Regions from separate parts of the Homo sapiens genome. Here region 1 is linked to region 2. The links come from fine-mapping of genetic effects on gene expression. Tissue or cell type: esophagus muscle. Region 2 holds a variant in brackets; the other region holds the start of a gene. All regions are shown on one strand. Distances are between the middles of the regions.

Region 1 (8,150 bases), 46 kb before region 2:
AGCTGCTTCATGTCCATTGCCTCATCCAAGGAGGCTCAGCAGCCCCATGACGCAGGTACCGGCATGTTCCCTATTTCCCAAGTGAAGAAACTGAGATACAGAGAGGTTAAGTCACTTGCACAAGGTCACAGAGGTAGGAAGTGGAGGCCTGGGACTCCAAGGCAGCGGAAGTCTGTGTCCTGGGTGGGGCTGTTGGCTCACAGTGTGGCACAGCTGGAGAGTGGTGTGACCCCTGCGTCTAACCCGTATGGACATCTGCAGCAAACTTGCTATTGAAAAAGATGTAAAAAACGTAACTCAAAATAAAGTGTGAAAAAAAAAAATACATGGACCTTGCCTGGATACTGAACTTCTCTAAAGGAAACTATAGCATTTTTTAGATTAGCAGGGAAATTAGAATATGAACTGGGGATGAGATAGCATCAGGAAATCATTATTAATTTTGTTAAGTATGACAATGGCATTATGCATTTGTAAGAAATGTGCATATTTCTAGAATGTGCACTGTAACCTGGAGGGGTGAGATGACATGATGTCCAAGGTCGGCTTGTTTTTTTTTATTTTAATTTAAATTTAATTTTATTTTCTTATTATACTTAAGTTCTAGGGTACATGTGCACAACGTGCAGGCTTGTTACATATGTATACATGTGCCATGTTGGTGTGCTGCACCCATTAACTAGTCATTTACATTAGGAATATCTCCTAATGCTATCCCTCCCCCTCCCCCCGTCCCACAACAGGCCCCAGAGTGTGATGTTCCCCTTCCTGTGTCTAAGTATTCTCATTGTTCAATTCCCACCTATGAATGAGAACATGCAGTGTTTGGTTTTCTGTCCTTGCTATAGTTTGCTGAGAATGATGGTTTCCAGATTCATCCATGTCCTTACAAAGGATATTAACTCATCCTTTTTTATGGCTGCATAGTATTCCATGGTGTATATGTGCCACATTATCTGAGACTTTTTTTTTTTTGAGACAGAGTCTAACTCTCGCCAGGCTGGAGCGCAGTGACACGATCTTGGCTCGCTGCAACCTCTGCCTCCTGAATTCAAGTGATCCTCCTGCATTCAAGTGATCCTCCTGCCTCAGCCTCCCGAGTAGCTGGGACTACAGGCGCGTGCCACCACACCCAGCTAATTTTTGTATTTTTAGTAGAGACAGGGTTTCACCATTTCAGCCAGGATGGTCTTGATCTCTTGACCTGATGATCCGCCCGCCTCAGCCTCCCAAAGTGGTAGGATTATAGGAGTGAGCCACCGCGCCCGGCTGTGCCACATTTTCTTTATCCAGTCTGTCATTGATGGGCATTTGGGTTGGTTCCAAGTCTTTGCTATTGTGAATAGTGGTCGGCTTGTTTTTTTGAGACAGAATCTTGCTCTGTCGCCCAGGCTGGAGTGCGGTGGCATGATCTCGGCTCACTGCAACCTCTGCCTCCAGGGCTCAAGCGATTCTCCTACCTCAGCCTCCCGAGTAACTGAGACGACAGGCACATGCCACCACACTGAGCTAATTTTTGTTTTAGTAGAGATGGGGTTTTACCATGTTGGCCAGGCTGGTCTTGAACTCCTGGCCTCAAGTGATTCGCCCGCCCCAGCCTCCCAAAGTGCTGGGAATCCAGGTGTGAGGCACTCAGCCTGGCCCCCACTCTAGGATCTGATAAGTGAGCACAGTGCTCAGGGCAGTCGCGGGCCGCCAGTCACATCCTGATAGCAACACGGCCAGCTGCTCCACCCTCCCTTCCCAAGTCCCTGTCTTAGGCAGCCCACTCCCATCTCCCCTGGATGCCCCTCTAGCGTCCTGCGCTGAGTGTGAGTCCAGCACTGGAGTCATTACCTGCCCCCATGCCAGCCTGTCTTGCCTGTGTTCTCAGAGAAGACAGTACCGTCCACCCCGGCTCCCAGGCCAGAGACCTCGCTGCTTTTCTCTCCTCCTCTCAGCCAATGAGTCAACAAGTCTCACGGAGTTTACCTTCTGAGTTGCTCCTGAATCCATCCCTTCCTTTTCTTCCCTCCCACTGTCCTAGTCCACCTGCACCTGGACATCTGCAGCAGCCTCCTCGCCGGTCTCCCTGCCTACGCTCTGGCATTCCATCCCCTCTGTCCACCCAACCACTAGAGTGAGCCTTCGCCCAGGACACCCGCTCATGTCACTGCTCAGAGCCCTTACATGCCCTCCCACCGCCCTTAGGGTGGACTCCAAATACCTTATCATCGTTCACCAGGAACCCTCCCCTATTGAGCTGCTCAGCCCTGAAATGTTCTGTTCCACTCACTTGTCAGTTCTCCAAATGCACCATGCTCTCCCTCTTGCCTCCAGCCTTTGCATTCACTCTGCCTGCTATGCTCTTCTCCGAAGCCCTCTGCAGATCTGAGAATCTCTTCCTCCAGGAAGCCTTCCCTGACTACATCCCTGACGCTCAATTAGGTGCCCCTCCGTGTAATGCCGCTAAGCCTGTGTCTCATTTCTCACAGCCCTTTTCATTCTTTTTTTTTTTTTTTTTTTTGATGCAGAGTCTCGCTCTGTCGCCCCAGCTGGAGTGCAATGGTGCGATCTCGGCTCACTGCAACCTCCGCCTCCAGGGTTCAAGCGATTCTCCTGCCTCATCCTCCCGAGCAGCTGGGACTACCACCACCACGTCCACCACCACGCCCGGCTAATTTTTGTACTTTTAGTAGAGATGGGGTTTCGCCATCTGGTCTGGAACTCCTGACCTCAGGTGATGCGCCCGCCTGAGTGCTGCATTACAGGCATGATGTGCCTGGGATTACTGCCAGGAGCCACCGCGCCCGGCCTCACAGCCCTTTTCTTTTCTTTTTTTTTTTTTTGAGACGAAGTTTCACTCTTGTCCCCCAGGCTGGAGTGCAATGGCGCGATCGCGATCTCGGCTCACTGCAAACTCTGCCTCCCGGTACAAGCGATTCTCCCGCCTCAGCCTCCCGTGTAGCTGGGATTACAGGTGCGTGCCTCCACGCCCAGCTAATTTTTGTATTTTTAGTAGAGACGGGGTTTCATCATGTTGGCCAGGCTGGTCTCGAACTCCTGACCTCAGGTGATCCGCCCGCCTCGGCCTCCCAAGGTGCAAGGATTACAGGCGTGGGCCACCGCGCGCGGCTATTAATATTTTTTGAAACAACCTTTTCCTGGGTCTCAATTCCCTCAACCGGGGAGGCCCCCCAGCCAGCACCCGCGTGCATCCGTGGCGGTTCACACCGAGGACGGTGACGGACACCCTAGTCTGCTCCGCCTTCTGCCGGGTCTGGCCCCAGCCGCGGGGCCCCACCTCGGAACCGACAGCGCCGCCGCGGCCCACTTAAGGACGGGAGGGCGGGCCTGGGAAGGCTCGGCCCCGCGTGACGTCAGCGCGCACCGCGGCGTGTGACGCTCTGGTTGCCGCAGAGACGCCCCGCCCCCGCGCGGCGCTGCGGAACCGGAGCTCCGGGCGGCGTCGGCAGCGGCGCGAGAGGCGACGAGGCCCGGGCGGCAGGAGCCGGCGCGGCGACCGCGGCGAGGGCGGCGGGGACGGAGCAGAGCACGACGAAGACGCACAGGCAGCCGGGCCGGGCCGGGCCACGGGGAGAGCGGCCGGCGGGCAGCGGGCGGGAGGCCGGGCGGGCCGCGGGCAGCCACCGAGCCGCGAAGCGACATGGTGCTGCTCAAGGAGTAGTGAGTGTCCGGCGGCCGTGCGGAAGCGGGGAGGAGGGAGGGTGGGGACGGCCGCCGGGGCGACGGCGCGGCGAGGGACGCAGGGCCCGGATGGACGGAGGGGCAGCAGGGACGGAGGGTGCCTGAGGCGGGCCCAGCGGGGATGGAGGGGATCCGGGGCGGGCGGCACGTGAGGCGGGGCCCACGGGGCACGGAGGGGCGGCCGGGGCGTGGAGGGGCGGCCGGGGCGTGGAGGGGCAGCCGGGGCGTTCGGCATCTGAGCCGGGGCCCACGGGGCATGGACGGGCAGCCGGGGCATGGAGGGGCCCACGGGCACGGAGGGACAACCCGGGCGGACGGCTCCTCAGGCGCCCCGGGGGCCTCGGAGGCCCAAGTGGACCCGAGGAGAGGCCGGGGACAGCGAGGGCGAGGCCAGGCCCGAGACGGGGTCAGGGCAGGGAGAGCTGGCCCGGGACTGGGGGAGGCCGAGGGGACGCCGAGCGCTGGGAGTGCTGTGGGGTCGCTCTGCGCGGGCCGAGGGCGCGGGCTCAGCCGGGACTGCAGGCGGCGCTGAGAGGCCCCGCGGCGGCCGAGGAAGAGGCGCACCGGGGCAGGCAGGGCCTCCCGGCGGTGGGGAAAGGTGGAGGGCCGAACAGTTCACACGGAGAGCCGGGTGGATGGGTCAGAGGCTCCGCGATGGAGTTGGGATGGGGATGGGGAGGAGTGGCCGCCTTAGGCATCGGGTGAGGGGTGGTGGTAAGTGGACACAGGAGGAGGACTAGGAAGTCAGGGCCTGGCTGGGGAGACAGGTGAAGGGTCTGAGGACATGCAGAGGGGGCTGAGATGCGGGCCGGAGTAACCGTGGTGCCCAAGCAGCTGGTGCGGAAGAGGAGGCTTTTGGAACAAGCTTGGGATGACTGCTTGGGACGTGGGGAGACTTGGGCGAGGAGGCCAGAAAATGTTGGGTAGGGTCCGAAGTGGAGAAGGCCGGGAAGTTACCGGGGTCGAGGCTGGTCCGGAAAGAGAGTATGTTGGGATGAGTATACCTGCCGTTGGAGATGGGGGAGACCAGGGCAGGGCCAGCTTGTTTCTAGGGGATTCTCAGTCTTGGTGCAAAGAGATGGGGAAATTCTTTGAGGAATTGAGGGGTCCATGGAGCCGTGAACTGAGGAGAGATGGTGGAAGGGGTGGGGAGCTCTTGAGTAGTGAAGAGGGGTGCGTGGGAAACTGGTGACTTCTGGAAGGAGTTGCAGGATGACGGGTTTGCTCCTGAAATCCAGGGGACTGGGGGACAGGTGGAGATGTTTGGTGTGCTAAATCTTTCAAGTACAAGATGAGCCATCGTTGAAGCTCAGGGTTCCAAGTAAGCATCACAGGACATTTTTCTCCCCAAAGAGGAGAGATAGGATGGGTGTGTGTGTGTGTGTGCGTGTGCGTGTGTGCACAGAATTTACAGTGAAACTGCTTTCCTGGAGGGAGGGCCAGAAGCCCCAGGAGTGGGAGATGGTCAAACAGAGAGCAACTTGTGAGGCAGCCAGGCAGGTGTGCAGAGAGCTCTTGCCACTTTGTCAGCGATCGCACTTTGACCATCCCCACCAGGCTGGCTCCTTGGAGGTGCTTAGGACATTTAGGACATAGAGTGGAGTTTGGGTAACAGAGGGAGCTGAGACCCACATGTCATCCCAGCTAAACACCTCATCTGAAGAGCATTATTTTGAGGCCTCATCCCCTCTGTTTCTTGACATCCAGTCTGATGTTAATTCAGCCAGGGCTCGGAGCTTTTCCTGGTGAGGAGGAAGAACTTTACGATGCCAACAGGAGAACGTGGTGCACTTTAGATTTTAATCTTCAGTGTCCAGACTGACAGGCTTTTCCCATCCTTCTGATTCTTTTTCCTGTTCCCAAATGAACCCTAGAATCTGTAGAAATCTGTGGTTTTGAAATGAAGGTCAGGCAGGGAAAGGAAGGGACCTTCAGAGGAGATCTGAGTGAGGTTTGAAGAGAGGCACTCCTTCCCTGTCTTTGTTCTCCTCCCCTTGAAGCCTGCAAGGGAAAAGTCCAAGGTGCCGGAGATGCAGGGCCTGCCTGGTATCTGCGTTTCCTTCCTGCCCGACTCGTGCCCCGTGTGTGCATCCCTGGGCGGGGGACGGGGGAGGAGCAGGGGCATCAGGGCATCCGAGACACTGGCTGTGGCCGCAGCGTTGCAGCCCTGGAAAGGGTGCGAGTGAAGGTCACATTAGAGTGAGTGCCGCTCCAGGCCCAGCCCGGCAGTTCCTCTGTGGCCCTGTCCTTTGGAATTGTACCCTATTGCTGCCGAAGTGGTTTTGTTCCTAAGGAGCAAGGGGGCAGTGTCAGAGTGTGCAGCCGTCACGTCAGCAGCCTCAGCGCATCCCGTCAGGAATTGGCCCATGGCATTCTCTTTTGGGGTGAGACTTGGTTCCCACCCAGCGTCTGCAGGTTGCCCCTGTTGATTTTTCCAACACTTCCTCTAACAGGATTCTGTTTAATTTGATTTCTGCAAAATCTTGGATGTGATTTTGACTGCTGTTCTTGAAGATAAAAGGCTTATTGTTTTCTAGGAAGTTTCTTCTGAGGGTGCAGAAATTCTGGCCTCCAAGTTGGGAGTATTTTTCTGCACCACTGGCTTTCTGTAATGGGAGGGGAGGCTCACTGGCAGCATTCAGTAAACTGGAGGATTTATGTTGTTTGAGTTGCTCTGGAGGAAGGGAGTTGTTAGCAGGCAGTAAAGACTTGGAGCCCATTTTGTTTTTCCTGCTACTTTCCTGCTTGGTGTCTTGCCTTTGAGGTGATGTTTTCCTCAGACCCCTCTGTGTCCTTCTTGCTTCCTGGGGGACCTTTGTGGAACTAGAAAATAGCTGTTTACTAGCCTGGAGCAAGGAGCCTGAGTGGTGAGCCGGCTGCATAAGGAAGGCACAGCAGCTCATGCTTCCCTAATGCTTCACTAAACATGCAAGACACAAAAGGACCCAGAGGGCTCCAGCAAGGGTCTGGGGACCGAACGTCTAAGCTTGGAAACTGGCTGGACTTGTATGGGTAAAACCAAGAGTTTTTGTCTTAGCTCTCCCGCCTCACAGCTTTGAACTGGGGGTGGCTCTTGGTCTGCATTTCACATGCACGGCACCTGGAGAAGTGCTGCTAGCCCTGGCACCTCTGTGGGGTTCTGGCCCTGGCGGAGACTTTGCCGGCCACGGCTTCTCCAATAGGTTGCTGGTGGCATCTCCAGCAATTGGTGGTCATTGAGTTGGAGAAGAAGAAAAGAAAATGATAAATTGGGATTCCTTTGGACAGCTCCTGGAGGTCAGGACATAAGTTGAATGCCCTCTTGGTGGCTTTGTGGTAGCAGCTTGGATTGTAATATCCAGCCCCGAGCAGAGATGCCCGGTGTGTGTTCTTAGGCTTCAAGGGGCTTGGTCCCTTCCTGGCCCTTCCCCTGGAGGGCTGTTGTTGGGAGGTTGGGTCCACAGAAATTTAAGTCCCCAGGGCCTCTTGTTTGGGTCTGAATCCTCACCATGATAGGTCCTCCTGTGTTAACCTGTCTTACTAGACTCACTGGCAAGTCTTGTTGGGGGGACGACTCATTGGCAAGTTTGGGTGAAGTTTATCATCCATATGTCCAGTTCCGAATGTGAGGTGGAGGCCTGGGAAGTAGCTGGCGGGAGGATAGGTTTGGACTGAATCACAGGGTTCTAACTGGGATGCCTCAAGGTACAGAGGGTCCTGTCCTCAGAGCACTAAGAGGGCCATTCTCTGGGGGGGGGGGCGGGGGGGGGGTGTTGTCACAGAGTTTAGTGTCTTACACCTCTAGGGCACAGAGGGTCCTGTCCTCAGAGCACTCAAAGGGCCATTCTCTGTGGGGTTTTCGTCACTGAATTTAGTGTCTTACACAATAGAATGCTGCTGACTGTTTTAGGATGATGCTTTAAAGAGCCTTGAGCAGATTGCACAGCCTAAAGTTGATACTCTCTTTTCCCTTTCTTATAGTCGAGTAATCCTGCCTGTGTCTGTAGATGAGGTAAGTCCTTTTACTTTCTGGTCCATAGTTGTGTGTAACTGTTTGTGACCATTGGCTAAGCTGGGCTCTGAGTGGTTATCCTGTTTATATAGTTTTCTTATTTGTTCTAACATAAATATTTCAATGTGAATTTCGTGGTGCCACTTTCAGTTGAAAAATGGCACTTACTTTGTATATCTGGGTAACTGTGTGCAACCTGTCCCAAGCTGTTGGTATGCTGGATGAGTAGAGATTAAACCAGCCCCTTTTATCTGCTGGGGCTGTGCATGTCTGGGGACCCTTTTTTTTTTTTTTTTTTGAGACGGAGTCTTGCTCAGTTTCCCAGGCTGGAGTGCAGTGGTGCGATCTCCGCTCACTGCAACCTCTGCCTCGTGGGTTCAAGCTATTCTCCTGCCTCAGCCTCCCAAGTAGCCGGGATTACAGGTGTGTGCCACCACACCCGGCTAATTTTTATATCTTTAGTAGAGATGGG
Region 2 (8,179 bases):
TTACAGTGTTTCTGTTTTCTCCTCTTGCTTCCTTAATACTTTCATTTTTCTTCTAGTTTTGCAAGACAGTGGTCAACAGGAAGACCCAGCAGCTCCACCCTCCCAAGTGACAGGCCATTTTCGGACGCAGCCGTTCTGTGCCCATTCTTCAGGCAACTTTCGATTCCTTACTGTAGCTAATTCTAGATGCCCTTCAGTATTGTGAACAAATAGACCGTCTGGTGTCACAGAGCCCGCGTGTGCAGGAGCCTGCTCCTCCGAGATACGTGGCGTGTAGGTTGCTGTAGTTACAGCGCCTCCGTCTCTCTCCATTGTGTTCCGATCCATTTCTGTGTGTTCCCCCAACCTTTATTTCCAAGTGACATTTTCAGTCTTTCAAATAGCTGCCTTTTGTGATGTGGTGATTTAAATGATTTAAGTTCATTTGTTCTCAACCTTGGGGTAAACTGAGGTATTTTGCTTCCTGGGAAGATCTTCGCAATTTTGAGTGCTCCTGTGGGGAGCGGGGATGAGCTAAAGATACAATGTTTCCCTGCCCCGCACCGCTTCCACAAAATAGCAATGTGGTTTTGCAGCTCTGACTTCTGCTCCCAGTAACCCATCGTTAGGGCACTCTAGCACTATGGAGGTACCCAAGGCTCAGCCAGTCTCTATTTAAGAAAATTTAACAAATACGAGTAACCCTGTCCCAATCACTGAATCTCTAGTTACTACTCTTAGAAACACCTGTGGCTTCTTGGCCCTCCTGTTGCCCGCTCTGAATCTCTCTGCAGTCTACAAAATCGCCCCAGTCAACTCTCCACTTGGAGGGAATTGTCCAGTGTGGCCCCTAGAATTGAGTCACCCCCTAGATACCAACTGTCTGACCCCGAGGAGCTCTGTAAGTCCCTGCTCCTCCTCTTCCCTTTGGGGCTGGTGCTGCCACTCAGCAATAATCCTCTTTTCTCTGTGCTTTCTTAGGTCCCTGTCCTCTGTCTTTGAGGCTGGTTAGGAAGCAAGAGTCCTGATCTTTCATGCTGCACAATATGAGCATGCAAAAAGCTTTTTCCAGCAGAACATGTTCCCTCGTCTCCAGTTGCCGGAAAGGAATTTGGGGATCAAGAACTTAGCTCGTCCTACCCCCATGTTGAGTTCTGCCCTGGAAAACCCAAAGCAAGTAGTGATCATAGTACAGAACCCGACCAAAGTAGGCTGGTGAGGAAGTCCAGGCTCCAGGGGAACAGACGCTGCCCAGTGTTCATAGCTTCCTGCAACTTGACAGAGCCTGAGTTTGCCTCTTAGTGGGAGAATGAGAGAGAGCTGTAGTGTCACCTGACATTCCCCAAACCTTGTGAAGCACGTTGGCCTAAGTGTGCCGTGATCCCAGCCCACACTAGCCTGGGTGCATCTGCTAATGGGAGACCAAATCTTTGTCCGGGAAGCAAGAAGTGGGTGGGAGAATGTATCCTGTTTTTGTCAGTTTGTTTGCCTTACTCATTTCTAAGTGCAATAAGGGAGTGTCTCACAGGATTGCACCTGTGACATCCTGATGGATGCTTCCCTGTGGCCCTCCTGGGGCAAGGGTGGACAGACTCAGACCCCCAGCATGGTTAGCGCTGACCTTCATTGAGGTCCCTTTGGAACCAGATGTCTTGTTACAGACACCTTCCTCTGTGTAAGTCTCCTCACCTTGAGGGGTCTTTAGTAATGCATCTGGGTAGCATCTCAACTGCTGGTAGCATTTATCTGACTTGGAAAGTTGGAGAAGAGGCATTCCTACTGGAGAAAAATGTCAGTGTTTTCCTATAAGCTCTGTGTTAGCTATTCATTATATTTGTGCTTAAAGATGTTCCTTCATTCATCAACTAGGGGAAGTCCAGATGCGGGTTATCTTGAAAGAAACAAACTGACATTCTAGGCAGACAGTTGTCTATGTGGTCTGAGGGTCAGCAGCTGTTAGTCTCCTTCCTTTGGCTCTTGAGACCCACACATATCACTTTAGCCCTAACAAGGGCTCCTCCCACCTCCACCTGTTGCCCCAGTTGAAAAGCATCCATTATGAGCTGAGGTCAGCCTGGATCTGGAATTGCAGCCCACATAAACATAAAGGAGGATGTCCCTGGTCTGTTCCATCCCCACGGATGGTGTTGCTGCTGGGCAACAGTGTTGGCTTCTTTTAAGTACCCCCTTTCCTCCTCACCCACCTCCAAACTGACTAGCACTCAGAGGGACTTATGATAAAGGTTCAGCTCCAGGGGTAGTACCTGAGTGTGTGCCATGCCCCTTCAGACCAGCTGCTTCCATCAGAATTCCAGGGTCACAGCCCCAACAGAAGCAGCAGTGCCTCTGTAGGAGGGGTGCTGGGCTCTGGCCTTCTCATGCAGAGAGGTCCGGGACAGGGTCAGTATCGTGGGCATGTGTATAGCTTCCCAAGTTCTTTTACAGTCCCTGCTGGGACTCCCTGACTTACTTTGGTTGGTTCCTAGTGCTACTTGTTTTACAAACTACACTTTGTAGAATTGATTAGATTACCTTGTTTATTTAATGTGAGTTTGTGCCTTTTTGTCTCAATCTTCCAATACAGGTATATTGAGAAAAAAAGCAGTCTAATAAAATCCTAGACAGAACTTTCTGGAGTCCAGTTTGGTGATGTCCATTTTCCAGCTGTATGTATCCTCAAACTTGCACTGATAACCGCCATTTTACCAGGGCAGGATTAGGAAGAGGTACAAAGGTGTGTCTGAAAATTTTTGCACGTGGATTTCTGCATATAATAGTCCCGTGTCAGTTTACTTATGCAAACATTGCACATCTGAATTGTAATTCGGCCGTTTCCTACTGACAGGATGTCCTTTTGCTTTTGTCTGCCTCCTCTTCACATCTTCCTCTTTATCCACCCTACCAAACAAGCAAAACATTTATTTAAAGTAGTTTTAGGCCGGGCGCGGTGGCTCACACCTGAAATCGCAGCACTCTGGGAGGCCGAGGCGGGTGGATCAGCTGAGGTCAGGAGTTCGAGACCAGCCTGACCAACATGGCGAAACCCCATCTCGGCTAATTATTATTATTATTTTTTTTTTTTGAAACGAAGTCTCGCTCTGTCGCGCAGGCTGGGGTGCAGTGGCGCAATCTCGGCTCACTGCAACCTCCACCTCCCGGGTTCAGGCGATTCTCCTGCCTCAGCCTCCCGAGTAGCTGGGATTAACAGGCGCGCGCTATCAAGCCCAGCTAGCTTTTGTGTTTTTAGCAGAGACGGGGTTTCACCATGTTAAGGCCAGGCTGGTCTTAAACTCCTGACCTCAAGTGAGCCGCCCGCCTCGGCCTCCCAAAGTGCTGGGATTACAGGCATTGAGCCACCGCGCCCCGGCCTACGTTTCATTTATTGACGGCTAATTCTGTAGGAGTCCAGGAATCCCCAAACGTCCCATATGCAATAGGTAATCCAATAAGTTTGGAGTAGAAGCCTGAAAGTGGGCGTGGAGAACGGAGGCGCTCCCGCAGTAGCAGGAATGGGGAGATTACCTGCAGCCGGGGGGCGGGGGAGACCGGATCCCAGGCAGGACAGTGGCTAGGCTGCGTGTCCCCACCCCCGACCCTCGTTTGACCCCTGGGAGCCGGGGCGAAGACAGCACAAGGACGGAGCCCTCGGATCCCTCACGAGTGGGGCAGAGGCTGCGGCGGCGGCGAAGAGACAACTTCCGCCGGAAGACGGCCCCTGGCGCGGGGCACGCTGGGAGCTGCGGACGGCGGGCGCGGGCTGGGCCGGGTCTAGTGGCGGCCGCACACCTCGCGTCGTCTGGGGCAGTGTTGCGCGTGCGCTGATGACAGGCCCGACACGCCCCTCTTACGTCCGCGAACCCGTCTTCGCTCAGCCTCTCGCAGCTTTGCGCTCGTGGGAGAGTCCCGCCTCCTTCTGCGAACCGCACCACCCAGATCCCGGGGTGCGCGGAGGGCGCGTCTCTGACGGAAGCCGGGGCGGACGGTCGGAGTCCGGAAGAAAAACAGTCCGCGACAGCTAGGCGCGTGAGACCGGCCGCCCGCAGGGCTGCTCTGGCCGGGACCCGCTGGCCGGGAGACGCGAACCTGCCGGACCACCGCGCGGGGACGACGGCGGCCATGAGCTCGCGGAAGCTGAGCGGGCCGAAAGGCAGGAGGCTCAGGTGAGGGCACCCTGGCGGCAGAGGCAGGCCTGCTCGGGGGGATCGGCGCCCCTTGGGCTGCGGGCTGGGGGTGGACAAGGCACCAGACCTCCATGACTGCCTTTGGTTCAGAGGCGCTCTCGCCTTCTCCCACGCCTGTGTCAGGTGGGCTGTGTTGGGCCCGAGCCTCGCGCCCCCTCTAAGCCGAGGCCGCCAAGCTCGTTCCCACTGGGGCGCAGCAGGTGTCCCGGTTGCTTTCTGGAGAGGACAGCCGTGTGGGGTTGTTTGAGGTTAAAGACATAACGAGGCCGTCACCCTTCGGCTCTCGGTTAGAAATCTTTTTCCTACTTTTCATCAGCACATAC[A/T]TCAGGAGGTCTGCCTGATCCCATGGTGAACCCCGGGAATCCGAAATCAGATTGAGATAAGATCCTTTAGGGAAGTGACTTAGCCTGGTCTCTTGCCTGCTCTTTCACGGGGAACAACGCTAATCGCCCACTTAGTCTAAGTCACGATGCTTGGATTTGCTGCTAATCGTCGGATTTGAGAGTGGGAACAAGAAATCCGGACTTTTGCTCTCCATCCTCTTAGAGTGAGTCTGGGAAAAGAAGTCTCTGAGTAAAAGGTCTTTGTTCCTTAAGCCTCTGTCGGACAGCAGGGGGAGATCGTAAACAAATGAAGCTCAAAATCTCAGGCCGAGTGCCTGGGAAGGTGGTTTCTGTATAGTGTTGTTTATGCTAACAGGGAGGGACAGGAAGTTGCTTTAAACTGGCCAAGAATTTCTTGAAGTGCTTTTGAGAACGTCGACCTCTAAGGACGGGGTCTGTTGGAGGAGAGATGTTTTGGCATTAACTGCCCTTTTCTCCCATCCCCCTGTACCCTCTGCCATTCCAGATCTCCAGCTGCTGCAGGTACTCCTCATCGTGTGCCTAGGACTCATGCTAGGCTGTTCCTGGTCTCTGCAGGGTCTGTAGCTCCTGCCCGCTCTGTGCTCCGCACAGTCTGAGGCTTCTTGAAGAGCTGCTGTGACTGACTGTTCCACTAAAGACATCTGTAGGTCTCTCTTTCCTGAGCCTCTGACTGGATCCAGTGTCATTGAGGCCCCTTATCTAGTTTTCTTGCTTCCCTAAGACTTGTAAGCTGAGGTGGAAAATATCCAACTGATGACTTTTCCCCAGAGAGTACTCTTTATTTTTCACGGAATACTACGCAGACATAGAGCATAGACTCTTAAGAGAGATGTCGAGAAACCTGTTACTTAAAAACTCCTTGGCCGGGCGCGGTGGCTCAGGCCTGTAATCCCAGCACTTTGGGAGGCTGAGGCGGGCGGATCACCTGAGAGATCAGGAGTTCAGGACCAGCCTGGCCAACATGGTGAAACCCCGTCTCTACTAAAAATACAAAAGTTAGCCAGATGTGGTGGCACACACCTGTAATCCCAGCTACTTGGGAGGTTGAGGCAGGAGAACTGCTGGAACCTGGGAGGCGGAGGCTGCGATGAGCCGAGATCATCCCAGTCCACTCCAGCCTGGGCAACAGAGTGAGACTCAGTCTCAAAAAAAAAAAAAAAAAAAGTCTCGCTGAAGTGCTTGGCAAAATTGGCTTGCTCCAGGGATCTGCTAGGGAGGAGAGAGGAAGGGAATATGGTGGTGTTATCTCTTTTATTTTTTAAATTCCTCTGCCCTTGTAGTGCTGAGGCCTATCACAAGGTGAAATCTGAATCCCTAGGATCTTCCTGGTGGTCTTAGGAACACTTGGGGTGAGAAGTAGGGATCAGAAGTTGCCGACTGAGCCATAGATGATGACAGAGGGGTGTGGGTGGCTGGAGGAGCTGATGGAATTAATACATTCCTGGCAGTTCAGCCCCCTAACCCTTCGCTAGCCTGACCTGAAATTCTTGGGCTCCCTTTGGCGACTCTGCTATATCAGCAGCACCAGTGCTGCCGGGTGTGGGTGGCTGTGAGCCAGCATGGAGGACCCAGTCCGGGGTGGGGATTTCTTGCTTCAGCAGAGAAAGGTGAGGACGGACAGCTGATGGTTCAGTATCCCCATTCCCTCCACCAGCACAGAAACCCACATTTCCCATCATGAGTGTGGCAGATTGCAGTGACATAAGCAGGCCTAGACCCCGTGCACTATCTTTTTTTTTTTTCTTTTGAGACAGAGTCTCACTCTGTCACCCAGGCTGGAGTGCAGTGGCACAATGTCGGCTCACTGCAACCTCTGCCTCGTGGGTTCAAGCAATTCTCCTGCCTCAGCCTCCAGAGTAGCTGGGATTACAGGCGCCTGCCACCATGCTGGGCTAATTTTTGTACTTTTAGTAGAGACGGGGTTTCACCATGTTGGCCAGGCTTGTCTCGAACTCCCGACCTCAGGTGATCCGCCCACCTCGGCCGCCCAAAGTGCTGTGATGACAACGTGTGAGCCTCTGCGCCCAGCCGACCCCGTGCACTATCTTATCCTCCTTCCTCCATGACTTCCCTCTGCATCCCTTCCGCAGCATACACGTCGTGACTTGGAACGTGGCTTCGGCAGCGCCCCCTCTAGATCTCAGTGACCTGCTTCAGCTGAACAACCGGAACCTCAATCTTGACATATATGTTATTGGGTAGGTATCTGCAGGCTCCTTCGCCCATCCCTGACCAGTCCCAGGTTTCCCTGTGGGAAGCACTGTGACCTGCCCTCCTCCGCTCTGGAGTCTGAAGGCTGGGAGCTTTCAGCCTGCTTCAGGGACAGTCCCATGTCTCTGGTCCCGGGTCAGCAACGGCAAAGGGGGCTGGAGATCAGCAGGCAGGGGAGGGAGACCTCATGGCCATCAGAACTCAGGCCTTGAAAGTCCGTGAAGATGGTATCAAATATCTGTGGCAGGGGAAGTAGCCTGGAGGCCAGGGGCCAAGCCTCTGAGCTGGCATGGTCAGTTTGCAGGAATTGAACTCTGGGATCATAAGCCTCCTTTCCGATGCTGCCTTTAATGACTCGTGGAGCAGTTTCCTCATGGATGTGCTTTCCCCTCTGAGCTTCATCAAGGTAACTTGCCAGTTCATTGGCACTTGACAACTGTGTTTTCACATCTCCACTGACCCCTGCTTGTTGGGTCTGATGTGTTCCTCTTACTCCTGCTCAGCCTTTCATGCTGTTTCCCATTTGTTTAAAGGGCTAAACCTCCCTTCCACCTGGACCCCGGGGCCCCTGCCTGCCTTCGCCTTTCTGAGGGAGCTGGAGTCTCCAGGGGTTGGGTTAACACCTGGATATGTTTCAGCTTGGGAAGATTCTGAGGGGAGGTGCAGCAGGGCTTGTCATCACCTCAGTGCTGGCCGCTGCCCCAGCCACCAGTCTCTACTCAAATGCCCATCCTGAAGTCTCTGAGTGTAATCATACGGCTGTCATTTATCAAGTGCTTACTTGTTGTTACACATCATAAGTAGCTCTTTATAGTATATATGTTATTTTAAAATCTTAACAAGTCTGTTGAAATAGAGATATTTTACAGAGAAAACCATGGCTCAGAAGCCACATGCGCTATCTGGGATTTGGATCCAGATCTCTCAAACTTCATAACCCAAGTTCTTAACTACTAATACCTTATTGCTATGCTGGTGAACTCTAAGACTGACAGATCTTAGGCGTGGCTAGCCTGCTGGTGTCATAGGGTATCCTCAGGTCATACGGGACGTGCACTTCAGATTCTGGGGGTCCAGAGGTTAGGAGAGGGGAGTCAGGTGTGGTGGGTACTTTGGGCGGCTTTCTTAGTCTGAGAGACCAGTATACTCTGGGGTGTCTTTAGACAGTAGGAGAGTCCACAGGAAGGCCCTGGGTTGCCAGATCTTCACCTTCACCTTGGTTCTGCCCTGCACACCTGAGGAATGAAACACACTCCCATTCACAGCACCTGGTATACAGCTGCTTAGAAATACCAGAATTCCCTCTTTCCCCTTCCTGGATGACTCTTGTTCTTCAGAATGGATTCTGTCAGCCTAGTTTGCCTGGGGGTACTGAGGCAAGAGCTGTGTGTCCTTTGGAGGGGGAGCAGAATGGGGAGGAAAGAATCTAAGGTTTAGAACTCC

The links. PIP is the estimated chance that this variant, and not a neighbour inherited with it, causes the effect.
Region 1: it holds the start of PITPNA, and the variant in region 2 is fine-mapped to the expression of PITPNA in esophagus muscle (GTEx, PIP 0.93).

Annotation. Positions count from the first base shown.
Region 1 is chr17:1,558,057-1,566,206 of GRCh38, reverse strand. PITPNA (phosphatidylinositol transfer protein alpha) reads left to right here and starts at 3,415. Exons shown (of 12, transcript NM_006224.4): 1 at 3,415-3,666; 2 at 7,648-7,678. The coding sequence starts at 3,647. RefSeq lists silencers at 3,243-3,522, 3,593-3,642, 4,123-4,252 and enhancers at 3,095-3,594, 4,363-4,462, 5,377-6,343.
Region 2 is chr17:1,512,416-1,520,594 of GRCh38, reverse strand. It overlaps INPP5K (inositol polyphosphate-5-phosphatase K), which reads left to right and starts at 3,983. Exons shown (of 12, transcript NM_016532.4): 1 at 3,983-4,139; 2 at 6,616-6,723; 3 at 7,034-7,142. The coding sequence starts at 4,096. PITPNA (phosphatidylinositol transfer protein alpha) reads left to right here. Exons shown (of 12, transcript NM_006224.4): 12 at 57-2,877. PITPNA-AS1 (PITPNA antisense RNA 1) reads right to left here and starts at 3,676. Exons shown (of 2, transcript NR_028514.1): 1 at 3,502-3,676; 2 at 2,499-2,877. RefSeq lists a silencer at 3,598-3,897. The variant A/T (reference allele first, on the strand shown) is at 4,484.